7 linked regions of the Homo sapiens genome follow. The protein of the gene in region 1 purifies or fractionates together with the protein of each later gene. This does not show direct contact. Each region holds a gene or a part of one and is shown in the gene's direction. Other genes may lie near its edges.

Region 1 (3,977 bases):
TAACCCCAAGAGTGTTGGTCTGAGTCTCAGTTTTTTCCAACCCTTCTGCACTGTGCCTCCATACAGATTGCTTCTCTAAACCATCTGGCTTTAAGTTAAACTTCTCTGAGCAGCTTGGATTTCCCCACAGCAATGGATCTTTTTGCATGGATCTGGATTCCATTTAGGGGCCCTGCAAAATGTTGAATTAAAGATCAGGAGCCCTGGTCTCTACTTCTTCCTCTGCCCCCAACTACCTCTGTGACCTCAGGCAAGTTGCAAATAAGTGTGTTCATACCTGCCCTGCCTTTGTCAAAGGATGGCGTGGCTGATGAAAAGTGTGTGCCTAGAAGCTTTGCGAGCTACGAAGCACTTTCGGTAACTCTGAACCATTTTCAAAATGTATATGAAAGTGATTGCTATTGAAACTTAAGATAATTTGCAGATGAAACCTAAGCATCTTTCTAATGCTCAGGAATGCTTGCAAGAAGGCAAAAATCCAACAGTTGAGATGTACTTGGGGAGTCAGTCCCTTCTCCAGAGGGGATGATCATCTTTCTAGAATCTTTACAGGGTTGGTGTGAGTGTGTGTTGTTGGCAGACAGGGAGTGCTCGCATGTAGTTAAACGGTTGCCTCTCTCTCTCTCTCTCTCTCTGTGTGTGTGTGTTTGTGAAACTGGTATCTGGTTAGGCCCACATGAGCTGTCTTATGTGTCTCTCTGTGCAGTGCCGTGTGTGTCATTCAGCTGTTAAGCGTTGAGAGACCTGGGTTCTGGTTTGGTGACCTTGAATAAATCCCTCAGACTTTCCAAGCCTGTTTCCTTATTTGTAACTTAGTGGTTTGTCCCTTCCAACTTGCGTACAGCTTGGAGGGGGGGGCCTTCACTACTGATTTCACTGTCTAGTTTGGTTTCTGGGTCTCTGTTCCAGTGGGCCAGCCACTCTTTGCTGGCGCCTCCCTGTGCCAACTTCTGTACCTGAATTGTTGCTCACTGAAGAGCTGGCATTTAGCTTTTTGGAAATTGTCTCTAACTCACTGGAAATGCAGGAAGCTTGAGTATAAAACTCACTCAGAAAAAAAAAAAAAAAAGAAAAAAAAGAACACACACTCAGAAGAAACCGCAGGGCCTATCAGCCTGTCGTCATCGAGCAGACTAGAATAGTATAGAAAACCCTAGGCAGAGAGGAAATGAACTTCAGAGAAGGGAAACACACGGCTAAGAAGAGAGAGGCAAGGGCAGGAGTGAAGGAGAGAGCTGAAGCCTGGGGCTCCGAGATGGTCAGAGGATGGGAGACGGGGCAGTGAAACAAGGCTTCTTGTATCTTCAGCAGCAGCAGACGTTTGGAAAGGTAGGAGTGAGGCTGGGCTGGGGTTGGGCAGGGGGCCTGGGAGGCTGCTAGAATTCCTGGGTTGGAGAGGGAGTTTCATATTCAAAACCCTTATAGGTCTGACTGTGCACCCACCAAGTTAGACCCAGAGCTCAACTTTGGGAGGGCTCTTTTCCTACCCGACGCTGTCTCCTGAACCAGGCCCCAACCAGGTCCCAAACTGTGCTCCTTACTGAGGGCTGTTTGCCCTGGGTGGGGGTGGGGGATGTGCTGCTTTCATCTCTTGCCTCTTTTGCTCTCTTGCTCTATGTTGACTTCTTTTCACCGGACACCTTGGAAGGGAATGGAAGGGGCAGCTGGAGGGACAGTTTAGGATGACAATAGAGGTTCCTTCCCAACCCCAGTGGGGTGCATGTGGCTGGTGTTCAGCTTGGGCTGGGGCCTCTGGGGGCCTGGACCCCAGCCGGCTGTCCATCCTCTTTCCCCTTCCCTGGCCTCCTTGAACCAGGAAGTCCTCGTCCCCTAACCAACACTGGGGGGCACACCTGTCTCTCTCTCATGGCCCAACCTATCAAGGAATGAGGCAGCAAGGTTCAGGAGGGTGGAGAGAAGTTCTCCTTCAGGATTTCGCACAGAAGGAGAATGAGGTCTCCAGCCCGGGTCACACGCCGCCCTCCTCACTCCCTCCTCTGGGCCTCGGCCACTGCCCCGCTTTCCTCCCCAGACTGGAGTCCACTGCGGTGGGCCTGTTTGGCCTTCTTGCAGCCTGCTTTGGGCTCATCCCGGCGTTGCTTTCTGCCTGGGCAGTCTCTGCTCTTGCTCGTGGGCCTCCTTCTCGGGGCTGGCGGCTGATCTCCGATTTTCTAATTCCTGCAGTCACTGTCCTCTTCTCTGCCTCCCTGGGTCTCATGTGATCTTCACCTCTCTCTCCCCATCTCCAAGTGGCTGCCCCAGTCCCCCTCCCACGGTTCCTCTTCTCCCCTTGGCTCACGATCTCCCCGTCTCTGGGTGGCTCCCTCCCGCCCCCGCCTCCCACGCCTCTGGCACAGAAATGGCGCCGCTTCGGCGCCTCACTGTATGGAGGGTCGGACTGCGCCTTGGCCCGGCTGGAGCTGCAGGAGGGCCCGGAGAAGCCTCGTCGGTGTGAGGCTGCCCGGAAGGTCATCCGCCTCAGTGACTGCCTGCGGGTGGCCGAGGCCGGCGGAGAGGCCAGCAGCCCCCGGGACACCAGTGCCTTCTTCCTGGAGACCAAGGAGCGCCTGTACCTCCTGGCGGCCCCTGCAGCGGAGCGCGGCGACTGGGTGCAGGCCATCTGCCTCCTGGCCTTCCCCGTGAGTCGCGCGGGGTGCGGAAAGGGCAAGGGGGCGTGCAGGCCGAGGGTGTTAGATACTTCCTGTGGGCAAGTGTTACAGGTGTCAAGGTCAGGGTGATGGGGTGCTTCCTCCATGTGGGGGGACCCGAACCCAGTGTGCAGACAGAGCCAGCAGGTTGAGGTGGCCTGAAAGAAGGCCTGGGCCAGAGGGGGGCCTGGGGATCGGGGAAGGTGATGAGACGGGGCGCCTCCTCCCTAGGGGCAGAGGAAGGAGCTCTCGGGGCCAGAGGGAAAGCAGAGCCGGCCCTGCATGGAGGAAAATGAATTGTACAGCAGCGCAGTCACAGGTGAGGGGGCGGGGGCTGCCCTGCTCTCCCCTGGGGGCTCTCCCCAGGGTGAGGTGGAGAGGAGGTGTGGGCTGGCTAGCTGCTGGCCCCGAGTCTTCCTGCCTTGTGGTTATCCCCAGCCTGGGCCAGCCCCGTTATCAGCCTCTCCTTCTCGCTTCCGGGTGCAGCCCAACGTAGGGAGCCTACCCTGCCTTGAGTCTCTCCCTTGGTTCACCTCATCTTACCTAGGGCCTGCTGGTGGGAGAGGGGAAGGCTGGGGGCCCAGGTGAGGGTGCTGCTTTTTTCTATTTTTGAGACGGAGTTTTGCTCTTGTCGCTCAGGCTGGAGTGCAATGGCACAATCTCGGCTCACTGCAACCGCCGCTTCCCGGGTTCAAGCGATTCTCCTGCCTCAGCCTCCTGAGCAGCTGGGATTACAGGCGTCGGCCACCACGCCTGGCTAATTTTTTGTATTTTTAGTAGAGTCGGGGTTTCACCATGTTGGCCAGGCTGGTCTCAAACTCCTGACATCAGGTGATCCACCTGCCTCAGCCTCCCAAAGTGTTGGGATTACAGGCATGAGCCACTGCGCCTGGCCCCAGGTGTTGCTTTTGAGGAGCTGGTGGAGGGAGGAGAAACTTTCATCTGCCTTCCATCTAAGCTTCACCCCCAGGGCCCCGGCAGTGGGAGGGCAGGGCCAAGGCTTCACCTGCAGCTGTGACCGTAGGGACTAGGGTGGTGGCTGGTTTGGGGTGAGAGATGGGGTGGGGAAGACAAGACTGTGGCTCTGGCGACAGGGGCAGGAAGGATGTGGGCACGAGGTTGGGGTGGATGTGGGTAGGGGCGTGATGCCTACTAGGGTAGGGGGTGGAGGTACCTGGCCTTTTGGGGAGTATGACCTGGCACAGAGCAGCTCAGCCTCCAAGACCCAGGCAGGGGGCCATAAGTGTGTGGATAATACTTTCTAGAAAAGTTCTGGTACGCTCATTTAGAACTGGGCAGTGGTGAGGCAGGCCAGCTGTTTCCCATTAA
Region 2 (3,500 bases), on another chromosome or scaffold:
CAGGCTGGAGTGCAATGGGATCTCAGCTCACTGCAACCTCTGCCTCCCGGGTTCAAGTGATTCTCCTGCCTCAGCCTCCTGAGTACAGGTGCATGCCACCACGCCCGGCTAATTTTTGTATTTTTAGTAGAGACGGGGTTTTACCATGTTGGCCAGGATGGTCTCGATCTCCTGACTTCATGATCCATCCACCTCGGCCTCCCAAAGTGCTGGGATTATAGGCGTGAGCCACCACACCCGGCTTATCGCCTCACTTCTTACTGAAAAAAATAATCTTTCATTGTTGTTTGCTTACTTTTTCCATAGTACCATTGTATTTTATAATCAATATCAGATGTGGAAAAAGACATTTAAAAAAAGACATTAAAGACATTAAAAAAAGACATTAGGCAAAGCCTGTTAATTTGTGTACTTGATTTTTATCTTCATTACTGTCATAATTTACACCATTGGTGTGCCTTAGTGTATAACTTCATTTAGCTGTTTGAAGACATTTCTTGATTTCATCTTCTTAGATTAACTTTGTTAGAAGTATCAGAATTCCATTGCATTGATAATACATGTTTACATACATATTTCTAATTAATAGTTCACCTAACCCTTTTAAAAACAGATATATACAGGAGTAGGGAGAGGCTATACCATGAGCTGCATTTAGAAGCAATGTTTCTAAGCTGTTACTTTCATTTTGATTTGTCTGTCCCTCCAAACTGAACCACTAAAAGCTTGGCAGGATTCAGTTGAAGATGAACAGGAGTTAAATTTTTTCACTGATATTGTTTCTTTTCCACTTAGTGTTTCCTCTACTAGGAGCTAACTATGTCCAAAAACAGAATTTTGATTGGTGAGGGTGAAAAATGAAGTTTAGAACAATAAAATAAATACCTGTTCCAAATGTAACCTGCAGGTATTTCACAGTATTGCTTATTAATGGAAGTTATTTTTTGTGGTCTTTGTAGAATCAGTTATGAAATTACCAACTTGGATATTTTAATGACTTCTTCTTGTAATTGTTTTTGCAATTTTATATTTTCAGGAAGTTCTATGCCAGGTCTCAAGCAGTTTATTAAAATTTGCCCAAGAGTAAATTCTACCACAAGTAAATCTCTTTGGAAACACTACCATTATGTTGTTATTTTATTGTCACAAGTCTCAGTAGTTGTGAAAGAGCAACCTTGGAAATTAAGGAATTGAAGCAAAGCAGATTTCCTGACAGAATAAAAATCAGTATCAGAATACCATTAACATTTACTAACATTTAATTTTTATTTATGGAATTGTTACCATATAGATGAAAGAATAAGTTATACATATATATATATATAGACAAATATGATGGACTGAATTACATATTTAATGGAGTCCACCTCAAAAGTAAAGATTTATCAGTTGTTAAAAATTTTAGAAAGTTTTCTTTAAATTGTTTTAGCCTAATAGTATATTACATATTAGTGCTATCATTTATTTTTACGTGTATCATCTTTTAATACTAGAAGCTCCATCAAAACAACCTAATTATAAAATCATCCGTTTAAATTGTTTTTTTTTAATAGAAAAAGTTACGTCGATCACAACACGCTCGCAAAGAAACAGAGTTCTTACGGCTCAAAAGGACCAGACTTGGCTTGGATGACTTTGAGTCTCTGAAAGTTATAGGAAGAGGAGCTTTTGGAGAGGTGTGCTTCTTTTTAAAAGTCACTACTGCTGCAAATATATATCTTAAGATAATTTAAAATATGTGTTAAAATATAATTCCTGGCTGGGTGCGGTGGCTCACGCCTGTAATCCCAATACTTTGGGAGGCCGAGGCGGGTGGATCGCCTGAGGTCAGGAGTTCGAGACCAGCCTGGCCAGTGAAACCCCGTCTCTATAAAAATACAAAAATTAGCTGGGCGTGGTGGTGGGCACCTGTAATCCCAGCTACTTGGGAGGCTGAGGCAGGAGAATCGCTTGAGCCCAGGAGGCAGAAGTTGCAGTGAGCTGAGATCCCACCATTGCACTCCAGCCTGGGCAACATGAGTGAAACGCTCTCTCAAAAAAATATATATATGTGTTTGTATGTATATATAAAAAAATATATATAAATATAAATATATATAAATGTAAATATATAAATATATATAAATATATATTAATATATATAAAATATATATAAATATATATATAACATATATAAAAATATATAGATATAAAAATATATAGATATATATATATAAAATTCCTGAAATACCAACACTGGCAAATTCCTGCTTTCTTTAAGGGAAGTTACTTTTCTTTCCTGAACAAATAGTAGTGACTGTTTTATAATATATGTTTTTTATCTTTTAGGTGCGGTTGGTCCAGAAGAAAGATACAGGCCATATCTATGCAATGAAGATATTGAGAAAGTCTGATATGCTTGAAAAAGAGCAGGTATGAGTTCTTTAACACATGTAATATAAAGGAGCATCCACTGACGCAGTGTTAAGAGTGTTTATATTAGAATTTTTAAGAAGCAGTTTACACATCTTACTACATAAGCTATTAATTTTTTGGTAGCCTGTTTTAGTGTTTCTCAGTTCTTTTAAGGTTTCTTCTAAATTTATAATCTATGTATGTCTGCTTAGACTTCCATAACAGAACACAACAGGCTGGTTAGCTTAAACAACAGAAACTTATTTTCTCATAGTTCTGGAGGCTACAAGTCAAAAATGAAAGTTTGGGCAGGTTTTGGTTTCTGGTGAGGCCTCTCTTCCTGGCTTGCAGATGGCCACCTTCTCACTAAGTTTTCACATGGCCTTTCCTTGGTGTGTGCGGGGACACACACTCCTGTGAGAACTCTCTGGTGTCTCTTCTTATAAGGACATTAATTCCACCCTTATGACCTCATTAATTAACCTTAATTAATTCCCTAAGGGTCCATCTCCAAATACAGCCTCATTGGAGATTAAAGCTTTACTCTATGAATTTTGTAGATGCATGAACATTCAGTACATACCTTCTGAAATACCTCCTTTTCTGACTACAATGAAAATAAAGGACAGTTCTCAGCTCCCAGAATCCCTGTCACATATCAGATAATCAAAACTAGTCTCCTGGAAATTTGCTGATTTTACATATTTCTAAAATCTGTAACCTTGTAAATATTCTGGGCTCTCTGCATGTTTCCTGTGCCTTAATGCAGTTACAAGGGGTGGCTTCGAGTAAAGGAGGGATGGCTTTTTGAATATTTAAGGAGAGAAATTGTGAAATGGTCATTTTCAGGTGCGGGAAAGCAGACCTGCTAAGGAAATGCAGTTGAAGGCTCATTGAGATTTGCAGTCATGAATTTAAAGTGAAACCCATTGGCATAGCTGGGTGATTTTTCACCCTAGTTTCAGTTAGGTTAAGAAGGTAATAGGAACCATCAGGAGACAGGGTTATAGGGGATTTTGTTGATGACAGGCTATGATTCCCCAGAGGGAAGAGGTGTGGAAGGCAAGGAAGGTTGAGATACTGAGTTGGATTAGAGAACTATAGAT
Region 3 (3,500 bases), on another chromosome or scaffold:
TTGAAGTCTCTTTATTGGGCTTTCATACTTATCCTAGTTATCTATTTTTCCACTGAATGGCTATATCATAATTTATTAAAGCAGTTTCCTATTTTGAGTGTTTAGGTTTCTTCCAATTGTTTGCTGTTATAAATAATGTAATGAATCATTTTGGTAGGGAAAAAAGTATCATATGGGCCACTTGCTTGTGTTTCTTTGATAGCTTATGAGGTGGTATCTTATTCTAGAAGCCAAGGTTACTCTTAAAAGGTGCCCTTTAGCGCTGTCATTGACTCCACCCTTGTATTAGTCTGTACTTGCATTGCTATAAAGAAATACCTGACACTGGGTAATTTGGAAGAAAAGAGGTTTGGCTTTTTACCAAGCCAAACAGTAAAAACAGTAACCATTGGCTCATGGTTCTGCATGCCGTATAGGAAGCATCTGCTTTTGGGGAGGCCTGAGGGAGCTTTTACTCATGGCAGAAGGCAAAGTGGGAGCAGGCACTTTGCATGGTGAAAGCAGGAGCAGAAGAGTGAGGGGGGGCGGTGCTATACACTTTTTTTTTTTTTTTTTTTTTTTACTGTTTCATAATTTATTTATTTTTCCATGGAAATTATTTAACATTTTATTTTCTGACAAAGCTCCTGTTTATTTTATTTTTTATTTTTTATTATACTTTAAGTTTTAGGGTACATGTGCACAACGTGCAGGTTAGTTACATATGTATACACGTGCCATGTTGGTGTGCTGCACCCATTAACTCGTCATTTAACTTTAGGTATATCTCCTAATGCTATCCCTCCCCCCTCCCCCGGCAATTGAACAATGAGAACATATGGAAACAGGAAGGGGAACATCACACACTGGGGCCTGTTATATACTTTCAAATGACCAGATTTCATCAGAACTCACTCGGTATCAGGAGGACAGCACCAAGGGGGATGGTACTAAACCATTCATGGGAAGTCACACTCATCAACCAATCACCTCCCACCAGGCCCCACCTCCAACACTGGGGATTACATTTCAGTATGAGATTTGGGTGGGGACACTAATCCAAACTATATCAGCCATATATAAAAATAATGATTTTTCTGGATTCTCCTAGGACTCCCTCCTCCAAGAGGTCTAAATCTCCTGCCTAAAAGTCAGACCACTCTAAATTTGACCTGGCAACCAATATTTCCAAGCTCGGAAGATGACTTTTATGTTGAAGTGGAGAGAAGGTCTGTGCAAAAAAGTGATCAGCAGAATATTAAAGTTCCAGGCAACTTGACTTCGGTGCTACTTAACAACTTACATCCCAGGGAGCAGTACGTGGTCCGAGCTAGAGTCAACACCAAGGCCCAGGGGGAATGGAGTGAAGATCTCACTGCTTGGACCCTTAGTGACAGTAAGTAATTCATGCTGCTCCAGCCTCATCTGAGCAATAAGGGGCTACCGCCATGCAGACTTAGCTAACATCACTGCAGGACTATTGGAAATTATGAAAGAAAGTTAGTTGTGAGAGAAGGCTAATTAGTGCCCCCCACCTAATCATTTTAATAACTTGCAATATATAACATATATTTGGATTTGCAATAATTCAGGCAGGTCTGTGCTAAAATTTACCTTCCCTTGGTGTGCAGTTGTTTATTTAGTAAATTAGTAACAAGAAGTTTTTCTAGGGCTTGTTGAACCATTTATGGGGTAGTTTTGAAGAATTATCATATATCTACATGTACACAGATGTCAGTTAATTCCAGATGGGTCTTACCTAACCATAAAAACCAAATAACTTTGCTTGAAACCCCTTGAAAACAGGTAATTTTAAAAGTTAAAAGATTTATCTAGGAGTAATAAAATCACTTTTTTTTTCCAAAGTATTTTGCATTTCAGGCTTCTCAATTTCAGATTGGTCATTTAAAATTAATGGGAATTTCTTGGGTTTCTTTGTAGTATTGAAAGTCTATTCATTACTAAACTAAGCAGAGAGTTTTATTTTGATTCACTGAAATTAGAACTGTGTGCATTTGGAACCCTTGGAAAGGTAAACTATTTCTTGGCCACACACAACTACCACTGAAGTCAGGATCATGTGGTCTATGGCCTTACCACCCTGAACACACTGGATCTCATTGATCCTGGAAGCTAAGCAGGGTCAGGCCTGGATGGGAGATTATGTGGTCCCTTGCCACCTCCCAGAGTCTGAGGCTGTCTTTGCAGCTGGTTCTCCACTTCCTCAGGAACAGGTGTGGAAGCTGGCTCAGTGTTTCTTTGGCCACTCTTTTATTGCATCAGTGACTTATGAAAGTCTGAATTGTTTTGTCAGTGTTTAGGAATTCTTCATATATAATGTTTAATTCTGTGAAATTTCCAAGGTGCAGAATCATGCTAACAGTAACACAACGAACAATCACATTCCTCCCATCCAGAATTAACAACTGTTAACATTTTGTCATATTTGCTTTCAGCATTTGTTGTTGACTTATGTAATAACCCACTACAGGTGTATCAGTATCTCCTGCAACTGTTATCCCTATCTATTTCTATTCCCCTCTCCCAAGAGACAACCAAAATTATGAGTTTGTTAAGTATATTTTAATTTAATGTTGTATGTATATATTTTTTGAGACAAGGTCTTGCTCTGTTGCCCAGGCTGGTGAGCAGTGGTGCCATTATGGCTTCTGCAGCCTTGGCTTCCTGGGCCCAAGCAATCCTCCCACCTCAGCCTCCTGAGTAGCTGGGACCACAGGCACACGCCACCACACCTGACTTTTTTTAAAAATTTTTTTGTAGAGATGGGATCTCCCTATGTTGCCCAGGCTGGTCTGGAACTCCTGGGCTCAAGCAATCCTCCCGCCTTCGCCTCCCAAAGTGCTGGAATTACAGGCATGAGCCACTGTGCCAAGCCCAATGTTCTATAATTTTAATATCTCTGAAAGTATACACATGCATACATATCATTCTTCATTTTTTGAATGGACATTATGAATTTTATCGATCCATGTTTATTTAGCTTTGATGCATGTAATTTTAACTTCTGTATAATATTCTATCTTATGAATGTATCTTGTCATTCATCCTCTCCCTTTTAGAGGGAGATGTAGGTTTTTTCATTTTTTACTATCATGAACAAAATGCAATGCCCATTCTTATGCATGTCTCCATGTGCATAGACAGGTGTGAGAGTTTTTCTAGGAACAAGTCCGGTGGTGGAACTCATGGGCTATTTCCCTCTAAAGTGGTTAGTCAGTGTGTACTATGTTCAGGAGTGTATGACAGTGCCATTTTCCTTATACCCATCTCTATGTCTATATCCTTTCCCTATATCACTCGATAGTGTCACACCTTTTTACTTTGCGTATCTCAAAAGCAAAATATGGTGCCTCATTGTTAATTTCAATTTTGATTTCCTTGATAGCTAGCAAAGGTGAGCATCTTTTTATGTTAATTGTCCTCTTTTTTGATATACTTATTGATATACTGGATGTCCTCTTTTTTGATATACTTATTGATATCCTTTGCTCATTTGGAAT
Region 4 (3,500 bases), on another chromosome or scaffold:
CACACATTAAAATATGAAGGTTAAGTTAAAAATCTGCTTTTTGTCATATTATGTTCCTAGAAACCTTGTGAAATTAATGAACGGCAAAAATAGATCATTTCCATTTTCTCTCTTAGCCACTAGATGGAGCTAAGCATAGATTTATGTTCAGGATTAGGCTGCCTCCAACTCTGAATTTGGAAATGTGGGGAAATGTAAATTTAGAAATGTGGGGGAAAATAATAAGAGTATTGAGGAGAATGAGATTATAGGTGATTTTTAATCATTTTGTTTTCTGTGTGGGTGTGTGATCTGTAATTTATAGGAAAAGGTCCAGAGGATATTAAAATTATTGATAGAAATTTTTAGTTGTAAAACTCTTCATGTTTAAAACAATAAAAACTTTCTTTTTCTGTATTTATAGCAATTCTTGGGATGCACAATTTGATAACGAATACAAAGTTCTGTAATATAATGGGAAGTAGTAATGGTGTTGACCAAGAACATTTTTCAAGTGAGTACTTAAAATGCTTTGTGAATTCTAATCCTTTATTAAATATATTTTGTTTTCGCCTTGTGTCAGCTTAAGTGTTCACATACTAGATGTTATATATATGTACTTGAAACCTGACATTTCAGTTTGGTGGTATTAACCAAGAAAGCCATTGAAAATAGAGTATTAAATATTTTGTGTTTAATGGGTCAGCAAATGTAATAAGAACCACTCTACCTCACTAAATAATGCTAAACAGTATAAAAGCTAGTCCAACTTGGTTTTGTTGACATTTTATTATCACTACTACTAATTTTCAAGAAATACATAACAGTACTTACAAAGAAATTACATTATAAAATCAGATTCAGGAGATACCACAAAACTATTCAGCCCCTAAACCTTTCAGTCTGATGTGAAGTATTATATAGCCTAAAGCAAAGCTTTTCAGAAACTCATTTATAGGGGCCAGGTGTGGTGGATCATGACTGTAATTTCATTTTCTGAGGCTGAGGCAGGAGGATTGCTTGAGTCCAGGAGTTCAGGACCAGCATTGGAAACGTAGACCCCCATCTCTAAAAAATTTTAAAAATTAGCTGGGCATGGTGGCACATGTCTCTAGTCTCAGCTACTTGGGAGGCTGAGGGGAGGATGGCTTGAGCCCAGGAGCTTGAGGCTGCAGTGAGCTGTGATCACACTACTGCACTCGAGCCTGGGCAACAGTGCAAGACCCTATCTCAAAAAATAAATTCATGTATAGGGTGTTCTTAAATTAGCAAGGTGATACATGCCTTTGTAGCACATTTAAACAGTACATAAGTATTTATGGGAAGAGGTAAAAGTGTCTCTGTCTCCAGCCATCATGCCCTCTACTTCCCCAAACACCACCTACCCTGTTAACAATTTTGTATATACCCTTCCAGGCTTTGCACTGTTTATACTAATGTATACATATTATACATAGTCTCTTATTTTTTACAAAAAATCGATTATACTGTAAATATTTATTGCAACTTAATTTTTCAATAATAATTCTATTAGCTAATTTTTTTTTTTTTTTTGGAAACGGAGTCTTGCTCTGTCACCCAGGCTGGAGTGCAGTGGTACCATCTTGGCTTACTGCAACCTCCGCCTCTCAGGTTCAAGCGCTTCTCTTGCCTTAGCCACCTGAGTATCTAGGATTTGACAGGTGCACGCCACCTTGTCCAGCTAATTTTTTTTTTTTTTTTTTTAGTAGAGATGGGGTTTTGCGATGTTGGCCAGGCTGGTCTCGAACTCCTGACCTCAGGTGATCTGCCCACCTCAGCCTCCCAAAGTGCTGGGATTACAGGCATGAGCCACTGTGCCTGGCCAACTGTTTTTGAATGCTTACTGTGGGCCATGTTGTGTGCACAGCTCTTGGACGTGAAGTACTCTTATTAGCCCTGACAACAGTTCTATGAAATAGATATTATTATTTTTAATTTGCATGTGAGAAAGCTGACATTTTAAAATAATTGGGTAACCTCAATATTTTACACAAAGTCAGTGGTAAGGATTTTAACCCGTGTTATATAGTGTATCACTTAGCAGTCGACCGTGTTTTCTAGTTAATATGTATACATCTACATCATTCAGACATGTGTATAACATTCCTTTCTACGATGTTTTGTAATTTGACCATCCCCCTTCTCATTTTTAAGTTTTTATTGTAGAAATGTTCAAACACACATAGAAGAAGAGAGAATAATATATTCATTACCCAGTTTCCGCTGTTTTTAACATTTGCCAGCCTTGTTTTATTCATCTTCTGTCTCCCTTCCTAACCCTTCTACTTTTTTTTCTTGACGTATTTTAAAGCAAACCCTGTTCATTTGTATTACATACCTATAAATATTTCCATATGTGTGTCTCACAAATAAAGGCTTTTCTTTTAATGTAATCATGATGCCATCATCAAACTTAAAAATTAACGGTATTTTCTTCATATCATGTAATACCCAGTCTGTGTCCAGATTTCCTCTGTTCTCTCCAAAATGTCGTTTCATGATTGGCTCAAAAAAGGTTACACACTGCATTTGGTTGTTTGTCTTTTTAGTCTCCCTTAATTTCTTAACAGTTCTCCTCCCCAACCTCTTTCCTTTTTTTTTTTTTTTTCTGTGCCATTTATTTTTTAAGAAACTGGGTTTATTTTTCGTAGAATTTTCCACATTCTGGATTTGGCTGATTTCAACCTTATGGTATCATTTTATGTTTTTCTATCACCTATGTTTCTGTAAACTGTTAGTTCTAGTGGCTTGATGAGATGCAGGTGCAGGTCCCTTTTGGCAAGAATGCTTCATGGGTGGTGACTGAATCATATTAAGAAGCTTATGAAGTCTAATCCTTCCTCTTTGGGGGAATGAGATTGATCACAGGGTTCAAATGTAGGCAGCCTGACCCATCCTTTTTAAGTTTCCCATGAACCTTTTGCTTAATAATTCCTGCATCCCATTGACTGGATTCATTATTTCATTAAGGGGCAAGGCTCTTAAGATTTCTCTCCCCATTCCATCTTTCCCCACTCCACAGGATGTGTGGAATGGGGAAAGAAATCTTTTGGTTTTATAAAATTAGAACTATTCAATTTTCCATTCAATGAGGAAGTTCTTCCCTAGCTATCTTGAAGACTACCTTGCTGAACTTAAGTGAGAGGGATCCCACTCTCTGTTGTTTAGCAGAGCTCCATTAGGAAGCTTTTCCTTGTCTTGAACCAAGTTCTGCTTCTTGGCAATCTATACTTGTTCTAACGCAGCCTCTCAGAACAGCACTAAATTTGTCTCTTCTCAACTTCTACAGGATAAATCTGAAAACAGCTAGGATAACTTCTTTTAATAGGTACTTCTCCAGACTAAATATATTCAGATTTTTCACCTGACCTCGGGAAAGTAATTTTCAAACCTTCATCTAAGTTGATCTTCTCAAGATGCTGTGTGTGTGTGATATTTGAAAGTAACAAGATACTCTTAGATGGAATTTATTGGATAATCAGTGCACCCTGTCTCAAGAT
Region 5 (3,500 bases), on another chromosome or scaffold:
GGAGCTCAGAGGAGAGCACAGGGAGGGCTGAGGGCCGGGGGCTGGGAAGGTGGAGAGGCTGCCAAGCAGCAGCAGCAGCTGTGGAGGGGCTGCAGTGAGAGGCGGCGCCCCAGGCAGGGCTGAAGCTGTTTCCCAGCTGGGGCCAGGGGAGCCAGCAGCTGCTGCTGAGAGCCATTTTAGAGCCAGGGTTTTTTGTTCAGGATAGAGCAGGCGTTTCGAGTTGCTTCTGGAATCATCAGCTGAAGCGGCAGGAGGAAGGTGCCAGGGAGAACAGAGTGTCGTTGAGCCGTTCGGTTTTCACCTCGGACTTCCCAGCAGCTGTAAGGCAGACCCCACTCTACAGCTGAGGCAGCCGCAAGCAGAGCCTTGCTGGGCCTCACCCCTGGAAGAGGGGGTGCAGTAGCCCATGGAGCCCACGCTGAATGCCCTACAGCTGGGGGTCCACTTCCCTGATGCCTGTGAAGACATTGCATTCTCATTTATTGCCTTTTCACCAGGTAGAAACTCCAGTCTTAAAAAGAAATCCCTTTCTTTTCAGTTTGCAGAGTGGTGTCTAGATTACGGAGCACACGGGTGCCGCATTCCTGACAGACCCTATTCGCTCTTTGAAGGTAAGAGTGAGAAAAATGCTATAGATTAAATGTTTGGGTGAAATTGGTTCTCCTGCCCTTGTGGACTGGCACTGTTCATATTTGACCTGGCTCAAGTAATACTTCCAAACTGTAAAATAATCAGCAGAGTAGCTTATTGCTGAAAATTATGTTGAATCTCTTCACCTTACCTATTGTTTTGTGCTCCTGTGAATGTCTTCCAAGTGTTCTTAGGTTTTTTGTGAGGTGTCTATGCAGACAGAACGTAGAAGGCTTGCTGTTAGCAATGGAAGAAATAGTTTACTCCTCTGCATTTCATCTGTAATGTTGCATATTTAATATTGGTGTATTCATGGGAAGCTTGAATAATTACTTAAATATATTTAATATCATATAAAGAAGTATGAATAATTAATATTAGCAATTAGAAATATTAGTAAGTAGAAAAAATAGCAAGAGTGAATATTGAAGAAAGTTCTGAAAAGAGGAGCACTGATAGGCAGGCAGTGAAAGCAACAAGGATTCCAGAGTCCACCACGGGCGCAGGGAAGGGAAGACAGGAGCACAAACAGAAGCCCCACAAACAGGCCCGGATATTCGTTAGATTTGTATGTGGGTATGGGCGTGCTTTCTGTTTGCTAACATTTTGGTAAAGGTTTTTGCATCTCTATTCATGAAGGATATTGGCCTACAGTTTTCCTGTCTTGTGCTGTCTTTCTCTGGTTTTGGTATCAGGGTCATACTGACCTAATAAACCATGTTGAGAAGTATCTTCTTCTCTTCTGTTTTCTGGGACAGACTGTGTTAATTGGTGGAAGAATTGGTATTAGTGTAACTTAAATGTTTGGTAGAATTCTCCAGTACAAACTTCTAGGTCTGGAGATTTATTTTTCTAGACTTTTAAAATAAATTCCGTTTTTAAAATAGTTATAGGGCTGTTCAAGTTATCTATTTCATATTGGGTGAGCTGTCATAGTTTGTAATTTTTGGGAAATTGGTTAATTACGTACATGTGGTGAAATGCAAATATGTAAGCTATTGGTATTCCTTATCATCCTCTGTCTGCATCGTCTGTAGTGGTATGTCCTGTTTTAGTTTTCATACTGGTAATATTTTTAAATCATATTTTAGAAATACGAGCAGAAAACAGAGCATGTGTCACATGTTTTGCAGAAGATGATCTTTTTTAATATTCAGAGAACTCATAAGGAAAAAGTACTTACTAGAATAAAAGTTGTAGTCCTCTATGTCATAAAAATGCAATGCATTTGCATCAGATATAACAGAGTTAATGCCTGAACTCTAAATGGAGTTTATCAACTTGATAATAGCACCTTCAGAGCCCCAGTGGGTCAAAAGCTTTGGATGTACAGCTCCCTAAAGGCGGGAAGTTAATAGGTCACCTCCTTCCCCTGTGCCTCGCCAGTGCCTGGCAGACAGAACTGTGGGGGACTCTCACCAAATTCCCGTCAGGGGACGGAGGGATTATTAAGCCGTGTGCCTAGCAATGCAGGCCATTGTGGCAAACTGGCCGGCTGGAGGAGCCACTGGGAGGGCTCACTGGCACCTGGCACCCCTTCTGGAGGAGCTCACTCCTGCTGGAGTGCACCGCCCAGTGGATCCGCTGCCCACACACCTGAGCAGGAAAGCCAGGCTCATCCCCGCAGGGCCTGCTGTAGGGCCTCCTAGGCTTGTTATGGGTCCCTGTTTACTTCTCATGGGCACTCCTAGGTCAGTGGTTTTCTAATTTTTTAAACAAGTTTCTGGAACCTTTCTTTAAACAAAAACTTACAGAGAAGGCTGGGAACACCCCAGATGACCGTCAGTAGGAAAAATGGGTAAACAATCTGCAGTGTACTGTTCAGCAGTAAGAAGGGGCCAACTATGAACAGGCACAGAACGTGAATGAATTGCAGGAACCCTGACGAAGGAGCCAGATACAAGGGCTGTACACTGTGGCCATGCTCATAAGAGTGCCAGAGCAGGCAGAACTAATCCATGGTGGACCAAGACCAGGCTGCTGGTTACCTCTGGGGGGACCACAGGGATGGGAGGGACTGGAGAGGGGCACTTGGAACTTCCTGGGGTGATGGAAATATTCCAGGTCTTAATCGGGTTTTGTTTGCACATGTATATGCATTTTACAAACCTCAGAGAAGTACATTTTGGATTTATGTGTTTTATTGTACGTGAATTTTACATCAAAAGAAAAACTGTAAACAAAAACCCTGTAAGGGAGGATTGTTCTGATTTGAGTGGGGACAGGAGACCTGGAGGCCTTGGTGGGCTACTAGCACCTTCTCCACCCCACACCCTTCCTAAGCTGCTGTGAGTCTAGTTGAAAACCCACTGCTCAATTACTGCAATGATTTGGGGTGGGGATTTTGACCAAATTGAGGTTTGTTAAAAATAACATTCTTCAAATATCAAGAAGATATAAAATGCAACTTTGAGCATATACAGGCTCTGAGGGGAAGCTCCGTGTATAGGAATATCGTAATTAGCAGCATCCATAACTTCCATAGCGATTCTGTGATGCCACCTTAAAGTTTCAAGATATAAGATTAAAGCCCAGTAACCAGTTTTTTAAATATAAGATAGTGAGGAAAACTGGTGTTATTATATTACCTGCCAGGTGCTAAATATAAGGATATCTTTGGTTTTTAATGAAGTCATCTTTAGAGTCCTCAGCACCTTTCCCACATGCTTGCAGCCCCTGGTAAGGGAAATGATTAAAAGTCACTGTTATAGACACTACCCTTATGCCATTCCTAAGAGGCTCCTCATTTTACATTGCAGGCATGGCTGGCGCTATTCACTTTCTCTCTGATGTCCTGGGACCAGAGACATCACGGTTTCCAGCATTTGAACTTGACTCTTCGAAGAGGGATTAAAAGGTGCAAAAAGACA
Region 6 (4,157 bases), on another chromosome or scaffold:
GGAGCGTCTCCAGGCTCTGGTGTGCTTGGGGAGCTGGCCAGCTCTCGGCCTAGCTGGCGTCTCCAGAGCTGCGGTCCTGGGTGAGGGTTGCTGGTGGAGTTCTGGCCACCTAAGGCACCCGAGGGAGCCAAAGGAGCAGAGGTGTGGGGTGGGGGACGCCGTGGGGTACCTCCACATCCAAGGAGGTCTGCTGTTTGTCCTCACCCCCGTCCTGCGGGGGCCCCGGCAGGCAGCCCCAGGAACTGCGTAGGGATGGGACAGGGCCCAGATGTGAGGGCCGTGGTGGGGACGGTGTGTGGCCCTGGATGACCTCGTGTTGCAGTGTGACGTGATGGTCACTGCCACCATGCTGAGGGCCCCAGCCACCAGTCACCCACCATGGGGGGTGCCTCTGTGTGAGGCACGGGAGGGCCATGGCGTGAGGGGCTGTGGAAGTGGCCGGTCTTCTCCGCTCAGCCCCACACAGGATGGGCAGGGCAGGGTCATGCTGGCCGAGGGTAGTCTTGGGAGAAGGACAGGGTAACTCTCTGTAGCTGAGCCCCTGCTGCCCCTGCACCTGTTCTGGGCCTGGCTAGCGGCCCATGTACATCCCCAGCAGGACTCCACGTAGCTAGTCTGGCACCCACCACTACGGCCCCCTCACCCACTCCCTGAACTGGACGCTGGGGAAAGGTGACTTCTTCCATCCTCTGGGTGCTCCCCAGGGAGGAGGCCCCAGCTCCCAGCAGAGGCCTCTGGTCCCCCCTTGTCCCTGCAGGGCTGTGTGGGCACACTGGGTGCCAGTCGGAAGGGCAGGTGGCGATTCCCAGCTCTTGGGAGCTACCCGGCCACATCCCGGCCCTGCCCAGACGCTCCAGGGGCACCCCACACTCCTGCCCGCTGCGAGGCCCCGCCCCGCCAAGCCCAGCCCGTTATCGCTTGGACAAACCCTGGGTTGCTTTCTTCGGGGGGCCAGCACTCTGTTTGGGACCCTCTCCCTCCCGCCCTTAGGGCAGCAGAACGGCCCCCACTCTCCCGGCCCTGCCTTGGAGTGGGGCACCTGCCAGGAGCAAGTGCTGGGGAGGCTTGGCGGGCGCAGCAGGGACTCGCCCTAGCGCAGCTCCGGATGGGGCCGCGGTAGGAGGACGAGCCAGTGGGGCGGGAGGCCGCGGAGATGGCCCGGGGGCCCTCTGCTTCCCCGCGCCGTGCCCGGGAAGGACCCCTGGGCAGCGGCCGCGGGGCGCGGGGTGTTGGGGGGCACAGCCCCGGCGCGGCGCTGAAGCAGCGACGGTCTCCGTGGGGACCGCGGGCGCCCGAAACACGTGGGGCCTGGAGGGAGGAGCGCGCCCTGGCGGCCCCGTGACCCCGCCCACGTGACGGGCGCCCGCGGAAGGCGACATGGGCTCCGCTCCCTGGGCCCCGGTCCTGCTGCTGGCGCTCGGGCTGCGCGGCCTCCAGGCGGGGGGTGAGTGGCGGCGCCCCCCGGCCCATTCCCCGGTCCCGGCCCCGCCTCTGAGGTTCGCGTCCCCCCACAGCCCGCAGGGCCCCGGACCCCGGCTTCCAGGAGCGCTTCTTCCAGCAGCGTCTGGACCACTTCAACTTCGAGCGCTTCGGCAACAAGACCTTCCCTCAGCGCTTCCTGGTGTCGGGTGAGACCCCGGCCCCGGCCCGGCCGCCCCCGCCGTCCCGCCGCCCCCCGGCACCCTCGCCTCATCCGCCCTCCCCACAGACAGGTTCTGGGTCCGGGGCGAGGGGCCCATCTTCTTCTACACTGGGAACGAGGGCGACGTGTGGGCCTTCGCCAACAACTCGGCCTTCGTCGCGGAGCTGGCGGCCGAGCGGGGGGCTCTACTGGTCTTCGCGGAGCACGTGGGTGCCGGGCGGGGTCGCGGGCGGGGTCGCGGGGCACGTGGGTGCCGGGCGGGGTCGCGGGCGGGGGTCGCGGGGCACGCGGGTGCCGGGCGGGGTCGCGGGCGGGGGTCGCGGGGCACGCGGGTGCCGGGCGGGGTCGCGGGCGGGGGTCGCGGGGCACGCGGGTGCCGGGCGGGGTCGCGGGGCCGGGCTCAATGGCACGTTCCCCCAGCGCTACTACGGGAAGTCGCTGCCGTTCGGTGCGCAGTCCACGCAGCGCGGGCACACGGAGCTGCTGACGGTGGAGCAGGCCCTGGCCGACTTCGCAGAGCTGCTCCGCGCGCTACGACGCGACCTCGGGGCCCAGGATGCCCCCGCCATCGCCTTCGGTGGAAGGTGGGCGCCTCCCCCGGCCTCCGCACCCCCTCCCTCCCCTGCCCCGACCCAGCGCCCCCAGCCCTTCTCCCCACTCCCCTCTGACTCCCACCGCTGCCTTTTCGTAAGGCCTCAGGCAGTGGTTCCAGGCTTAGTGTTGCCTCCCCCAGGAAGCCCTCCCACCTGTCCTCCCAGCCACCTGCTCAGCTTGGATGTGCGGCCACACTAGCGGCCTTTCCCAGTGAGAGCTGCACCCGCACCTGGCCCAGGGTTGGAATTTGTGGGTCTCAGAAGTGTCGTCCTCCTTGTGGCACCTGTGGGCCCCTGAGGAGGAAAAGAGGAAATGGGGTGTTGGGGGCAGCAGCCCTAACCCTGTGTCCCTCACCCAGTTATGGGGGGATGCTCAGTGCCTACCTGAGGATGAAGTATCCCCACCTGGTGGCGGGGGCGCTGGCGGCCAGCGCGCCCGTTCTAGCTGTGGCAGGCCTCGGCGACTCCAACCAGTTCTTCCGGGACGTCACGGCGGTGAGTGAGGCTTGGGGTCCTCCAGGCCCCCTAAGGGACAGCAGCTGCAGTCAGCACGGTCTCTTTCCCCCAGGACTTTGAGGGCCAGAGTCCCAAATGCACCCAGGGTGTGCGGGAAGCGTTCCGACAGATCAAGGACTTGTTCCTACAGGGAGGTGAGGTCCTCCCACCGCCTCCCACTGCCTGACCCGCCCCAGCGCCAGCTATGCCCAAACTTCAAGTCTCTGCCCCTTCCACGCAGCCTACGACACGGTCCGCTGGGAGTTCGGCACCTGCCAGCCGCTGTCAGACGAGAAGGACCTGACCCAGCTCTTCATGTTCGCCCGGAATGCCTTCACCGTGCTGGCCATGATGGACTACCCCTACCCCACTGACTTCCTGGGTCCCCTCCCTGCCAACCCCGTCAAGGTGAGGCGCCGCCTCCCAGGGCGCAGGGAGAGGCCGGCTGGAGTGTCCCGAGGCTGGTGGTCAGCGGCCTGACCCTCATCCTGGGAGCCAGGGAGGCGGAGCTGGTGGAGGGGACCCCGCTGAGTCGCCGCTGCCCCTGCACTCCAGGTGGGCTGTGATCGGCTGCTGAGTGAGGCCCAGAGGATCACGGGGCTGCGAGCACTGGCAGGTGCCCTTCCCCCGGCCCCAGATGGGCAAGTGTGGAGACCCCAGGCTTGGCTTGGGTCCTGGGGCCGGGTGGGGCGAGGATCCGCAGCCCGGCCAGGGGCTTTGCCTCCTGCCCCAGGGCTGTGGTGGGGTGGACAGCACGACCTTCCCAGAAACCCTGGGGGAGGCAGGGGCCGTCCCTGGGGACCCTCTCAGCACTGGCTGTAGCCAGGCCCAGCTTGGTGGGTGCTGCCCAAGGGGCCCCTGGGGTCCCCAGCATGGAGGGCAACAGAGGGCAGCAGGCCCCACCCTGCCCCGTGGAGAGCGGGGGGGCCCTCAACAGTCAGGCCCGGGGCTGGCAGCACAGACACCGCCGACCTCCAAGCAGGTAGCCTGGAGGGCCTTCCTCACTGGGACCTACAGATCCCAGAGCCCCAGATCCCCTGCAGGACCATTCCGAGGGGGGACAGGTTGGTGGCCGGAGCCCGCGGTGTGTCTGTGTGTGGCCGCTGGGCCCCAGCGCCTCTCCTCCCCAGGGCTGGTCTACAACGCCTCGGGCTCCGAGCACTGCTACGACATCTACCGGCTCTACCACAGCTGTGCTGACCCCACTGGCTGCGGCACCGGCCCCGACGCCAGGGCCTGGGACTACCAGGTGTGGGGGTGTGGGTGGCCTGGAACCACTCGGGGGCAAGGGTGGGCGTGGGCTGGCCTGACTCAGGCTGGGGCACCTGCAGGCCTGCACCGAGATCAACCTGACCTTCGCCAGCAACAATGTGACCGATATGTTCCCGGACCTGCCCTTCACTGACGAGCTCCGCCAGCGGTACTGC
Region 7 (2,834 bases), on another chromosome or scaffold:
GACATGAGTACATGAAGTTCTTTGTGAAAAATAGGGCCGATTGTATTTAACTTAATAACTTGAATTATATTCTTTGTGTATAACTTTTCAGAGAAGGCAGTTTTGCTTTGGGGACTGAAAAGCCCGAGTTGTAGTTTCAATGTCAATTTATTTCATCAACACTAGAAACTAATATATTAACTAAAATAAAGATGCCAAAAAATGTATTTCACGTTACAATGTATCTTTAGCACTTTCTTAGGAATGAGTAGATTCATGACACAAGATTATCTGATCTAGTAATATATTCTATTCCTATATTTAATGTGTTTTAGAGGCAACTACCATTTAAGGATAATAAAGTTGTTTCTTTTGGCTCCTTAAATAGCTTATGGCTTTTATTTTGGAAGAACATAATTACACTCATGTGTATCAGCCAGTGAATGTGTAAAAATAATTTTATACACTTTGGAAGAAGACAGTCGTCTGTATCTGTTTCTTTTAAATTATACAGCATCAGAATTTCTCTTGGTACAAAAAAGAAATTAACCACCAAGGAGTGCCTTAATGTCCACAGTGAGCCCTTGGTAATGAGTTAGGGTTTTTGTTGATATGTCCAAAATACTTTTTAAGTATGTTTCATTGTAAATTAATCAGAATAAAATTTTTCTTGCTATTCACCTGCCAGTATATATTTCTGTGATCACTGCCACTGCATATACAGTATCTGGTTAGTTTGATCTTTCAACGTCTCTTTTACTTTTCTTTCTGTCCTGACATCCTTTTTAATTTTTTTCTCCATGATTTTTCATGCTGTACAGAATGCACTCATGAATTGCATTTCAGGAATATTTAATACCATAATAGCAAGTTTTGTTGACAAACATTCAAATTGGTTTCAGCTCTAGAAATTCAATACTTAAATTAGAAGGAGACACATGTTCCTCAGAACATAATAGCTATATTCCTTTTATAGCTCTCCGTTTCATTAGGCAGCATGAGCATCTGAGAACCTCAGTATTAAAGCAGTAGGACCTGTATAAATTATATGTAAATATGATAATTAAGCATTTCTTTCCGATGGTATAGATCCGTTGAAGAATGTTTTTTTTCTTAGAAACAATCTATGTGTTTTAGGATTCACATGATCTTGAATTTTTTAAAAATCACCTGGCCAGCTAGCAATTAAATATCGTTTACAAATTTACTTTCACATTAATCAGTAAGCAGATATTCCTTCTCATTTCTAGCAAAATAAAATTACATGTCAAGTTTCATCTGAAACTATGTAATACCTTATTTGCTAGCCTCTAAAAATTGTTTTCATTCCACATAAGAATTTGCTAAGACTGTTGCTTGACCTTGGTGGCTTTATTTTGTTCAACAGGTCATGTACGTAGAAGGGACTGCAGTTGTGATGGGTTTTGAAGATCCCATGCTACAGACAGATGACACTCCTATTAAACGCTGTCTGCAAACCAAATGGCCATACATTGAGTTACTCTGGACCACAGATCGCTCTCCTTCACTAAATTAATTTGTCTAAGTATTTATAAGGAAGATCTTAATAACAGATGTTGAAAGAAGGAGTCAAGACTGGCAATTGGCTGGATTAAGCTAAACACTGGTATCACTGATTAACTGTAAATAACAATTAAAAACACATTTTCAGTGTTTATGATATGTTTAAATTATTTGTCCTAAAGCTTTATGTTAAAGATTATCCTATTTTACCCCTTCGTGTGAAATTTACTAGCAAAATTAAGCTTTCATCAAAGTTCATCACTTTTGCATTCAGATACTTGGTCATTTACTTACCAAATTACAAACGCAATACTACAGCATTTGTATATTAAGTATCACAGTTACTATTGATAAACTACTTTTGGGTTTTATTTCATTGAGGCACTTTTTTTATTGTTTGAATGATTCCGGCTTGTAATATATCAGCCTCTACAATGAAATGCAGAAGAGTTCATTTTTCTAAGATCTGTTTTTCATTAGAAATATTGACAAATAACACATTGTCAACCTGGATCCTTTGACAATTTACTTAACTCTGGCATGTTCACAAAAAGTAGAAACTCTAAGAGACCATTACCATTTATTCACAGATGTATAGGGGATGTATTCTAAAAACTGACAGAAAAGAGAATCTGATAGTCAACACTGTTAACTTTTACTGTGTAATTGCCAAATACACTTTTCCAAATTTGTCCCAACAGCCCTGTAAGCCAGCTTTCTTCTATATTTATAAACACGATAAATGCATGAGAAGATCTGTTATTACATTAGTATATTACGTTATTTATTATGATCCTAGTTGATGGCCTAAATAAACACCTTTTTCTTTAACTGTACCCTTGCATTTTTTACATTGGTGGCTCAAAATAAACAAATACGTACTTCTAAATGTTTCTACCCAATAACCCTGAGAGCACAGAGTACTACAAATGGCTAAGTCATACAGGACCTCGAATAAGAGACCAGGCCTTATGCTAACCTAAGAGCTCTGCTAACTCAGCCAGCCAGAAGCATGAGAACCCACATGGCAGCTTTCTAGACCAGTGAGCAAAGATGCAGAAGCCCGTTTACTTGAGAGAGAGATCTGCTGTATTCTGATAGGTTTGTGGCCCAGCAATTTAAAATCACATAGCCATTAATACTTTTTTTCCTCCACGTGTAAAGCCACGTGTAAAGCAGATAATTATGTAGTATCCTCTTACACATTTCAGAACTGAACATTACCTTCAATAGTATAGTTCCTGTGTGAATTTCTGTTTGGGTTTTGTTTTCTTTCGTACACACACACAATTACAATATAATTAAGCATAGGGAAAGGCATGAGATTTTGT

The links.
Region 2: the proteins of DOK2 (region 1) and STK38L purify together in Homo sapiens (affinity purification with mass spectrometry; one large-scale study listed by BioGRID and IntAct). This does not show direct contact.
Region 3: the proteins of DOK2 (region 1) and TEK purify together in Homo sapiens (affinity purification with western blotting, with the first as the bait; 2 studies listed by BioGRID). This does not show direct contact.
Region 4: the proteins of DOK2 (region 1) and TMOD3 purify together in Homo sapiens (affinity purification with mass spectrometry; one large-scale study listed by BioGRID and IntAct). This does not show direct contact.
Region 5: the proteins of DOK2 (region 1) and LANCL2 purify together in Homo sapiens (affinity purification with mass spectrometry; 2 studies listed by BioGRID and IntAct, with this or other methods). This does not show direct contact.
Region 6: the proteins of DOK2 (region 1) and DPP7 purify together in Homo sapiens (affinity purification with mass spectrometry; one large-scale study listed by BioGRID and IntAct). This does not show direct contact.
Region 7: the proteins of DOK2 (region 1) and MINDY3 purify together in Homo sapiens (affinity purification with mass spectrometry; 2 studies listed by BioGRID and IntAct, with this or other methods). This does not show direct contact.

Annotation. Positions count from the first base shown.
Region 1 is NC_000008.11:21,910,891-21,914,867, reverse strand, and holds the start of DOK2 (docking protein 2), read left to right. Parts: upstream 1-1,177; 5' UTR 1,178-1,266; coding exon 1,267-1,329; intron 1,330-2,357; coding exon 2,358-2,639; intron 2,640-2,879; coding exon 2,880-2,967; intron 2,968-3,977. UniProt on the Homo sapiens protein: DOK proteins are enzymatically inert adaptor or scaffolding proteins. They provide a docking platform for the assembly of multimolecular signaling complexes. DOK2 may modulate the cellular proliferation induced by IL-4, as well as IL-2 and IL-3.
Region 2 is NC_000012.12:27,306,786-27,310,285, forward strand, and holds part of STK38L (serine/threonine-protein kinase 38-like), read left to right. Parts: intron 1-1,553; coding exon 1,554-1,676; intron 1,677-2,328; coding exon 2,329-2,412; intron 2,413-3,500. UniProt on the Homo sapiens protein: Involved in the regulation of structural processes in differentiating and mature neuronal cells.
Region 3 is NC_000009.12:27,196,225-27,199,724, forward strand, and holds part of TEK (angiopoietin-1 receptor isoform 1 precursor), read left to right. Parts: intron 1-1,090; coding exon 1,091-1,375; intron 1,376-3,500. UniProt on the Homo sapiens protein: Tyrosine-protein kinase that acts as a cell-surface receptor for ANGPT1, ANGPT2 and ANGPT4 and regulates angiogenesis, endothelial cell survival, proliferation, migration, adhesion and cell spreading, reorganization of the actin cytoskeleton, but also maintenance of vascular quiescence.
Region 4 is NC_000015.10:51,888,653-51,892,152, forward strand, and holds part of TMOD3 (tropomodulin-3), read left to right. Parts: intron 1-403; coding exon 404-493; intron 494-3,500. UniProt on the Homo sapiens protein: Blocks the elongation and depolymerization of the actin filaments at the pointed end. The Tmod/TM complex contributes to the formation of the short actin protofilament, which in turn defines the geometry of the membrane skeleton.
Region 5 is NC_000007.14:55,427,837-55,431,336, forward strand, and holds part of LANCL2 (lanC-like protein 2), read left to right. Parts: intron 1-538; coding exon 539-611; intron 612-3,389; coding exon 3,390-3,484; 3' UTR 3,485-3,500. UniProt on the Homo sapiens protein: Necessary for abscisic acid (ABA) binding on the cell membrane and activation of the ABA signaling pathway in granulocytes.
Region 6 is NC_000009.12:137,111,934-137,116,090, reverse strand, and holds the start of DPP7 (dipeptidyl peptidase 2 isoform 2 preproprotein), read left to right. Parts: upstream 1-1,357; 5' UTR 1,358-1,377; coding exon 1,378-1,444; coding exon of another isoform or gene 1,445-1,514; coding exon 1,515-1,628; intron 1,629-1,708; coding exon 1,709-1,848; intron 1,849-2,062; coding exon 2,063-2,226; intron 2,227-2,594; coding exon 2,595-2,730; intron 2,731-2,803; coding exon 2,804-2,885; intron 2,886-2,971; coding exon 2,972-3,138; intron 3,139-3,285; coding exon 3,286-3,346; intron 3,347-3,860; coding exon 3,861-3,979; intron 3,980-4,061; coding exon 4,062-4,157.
Region 7 is NC_000010.11:15,777,674-15,780,507, reverse strand, and holds the end of MINDY3 (ubiquitin carboxyl-terminal hydrolase MINDY-3), read left to right. Parts: exon of another isoform or gene 1-659; intron 660-1,366; coding exon 1,367-1,516; 3' UTR 1,517-2,334; downstream 2,335-2,834. UniProt on the Homo sapiens protein: Hydrolase that can remove 'Lys-48'-linked conjugated ubiquitin from proteins.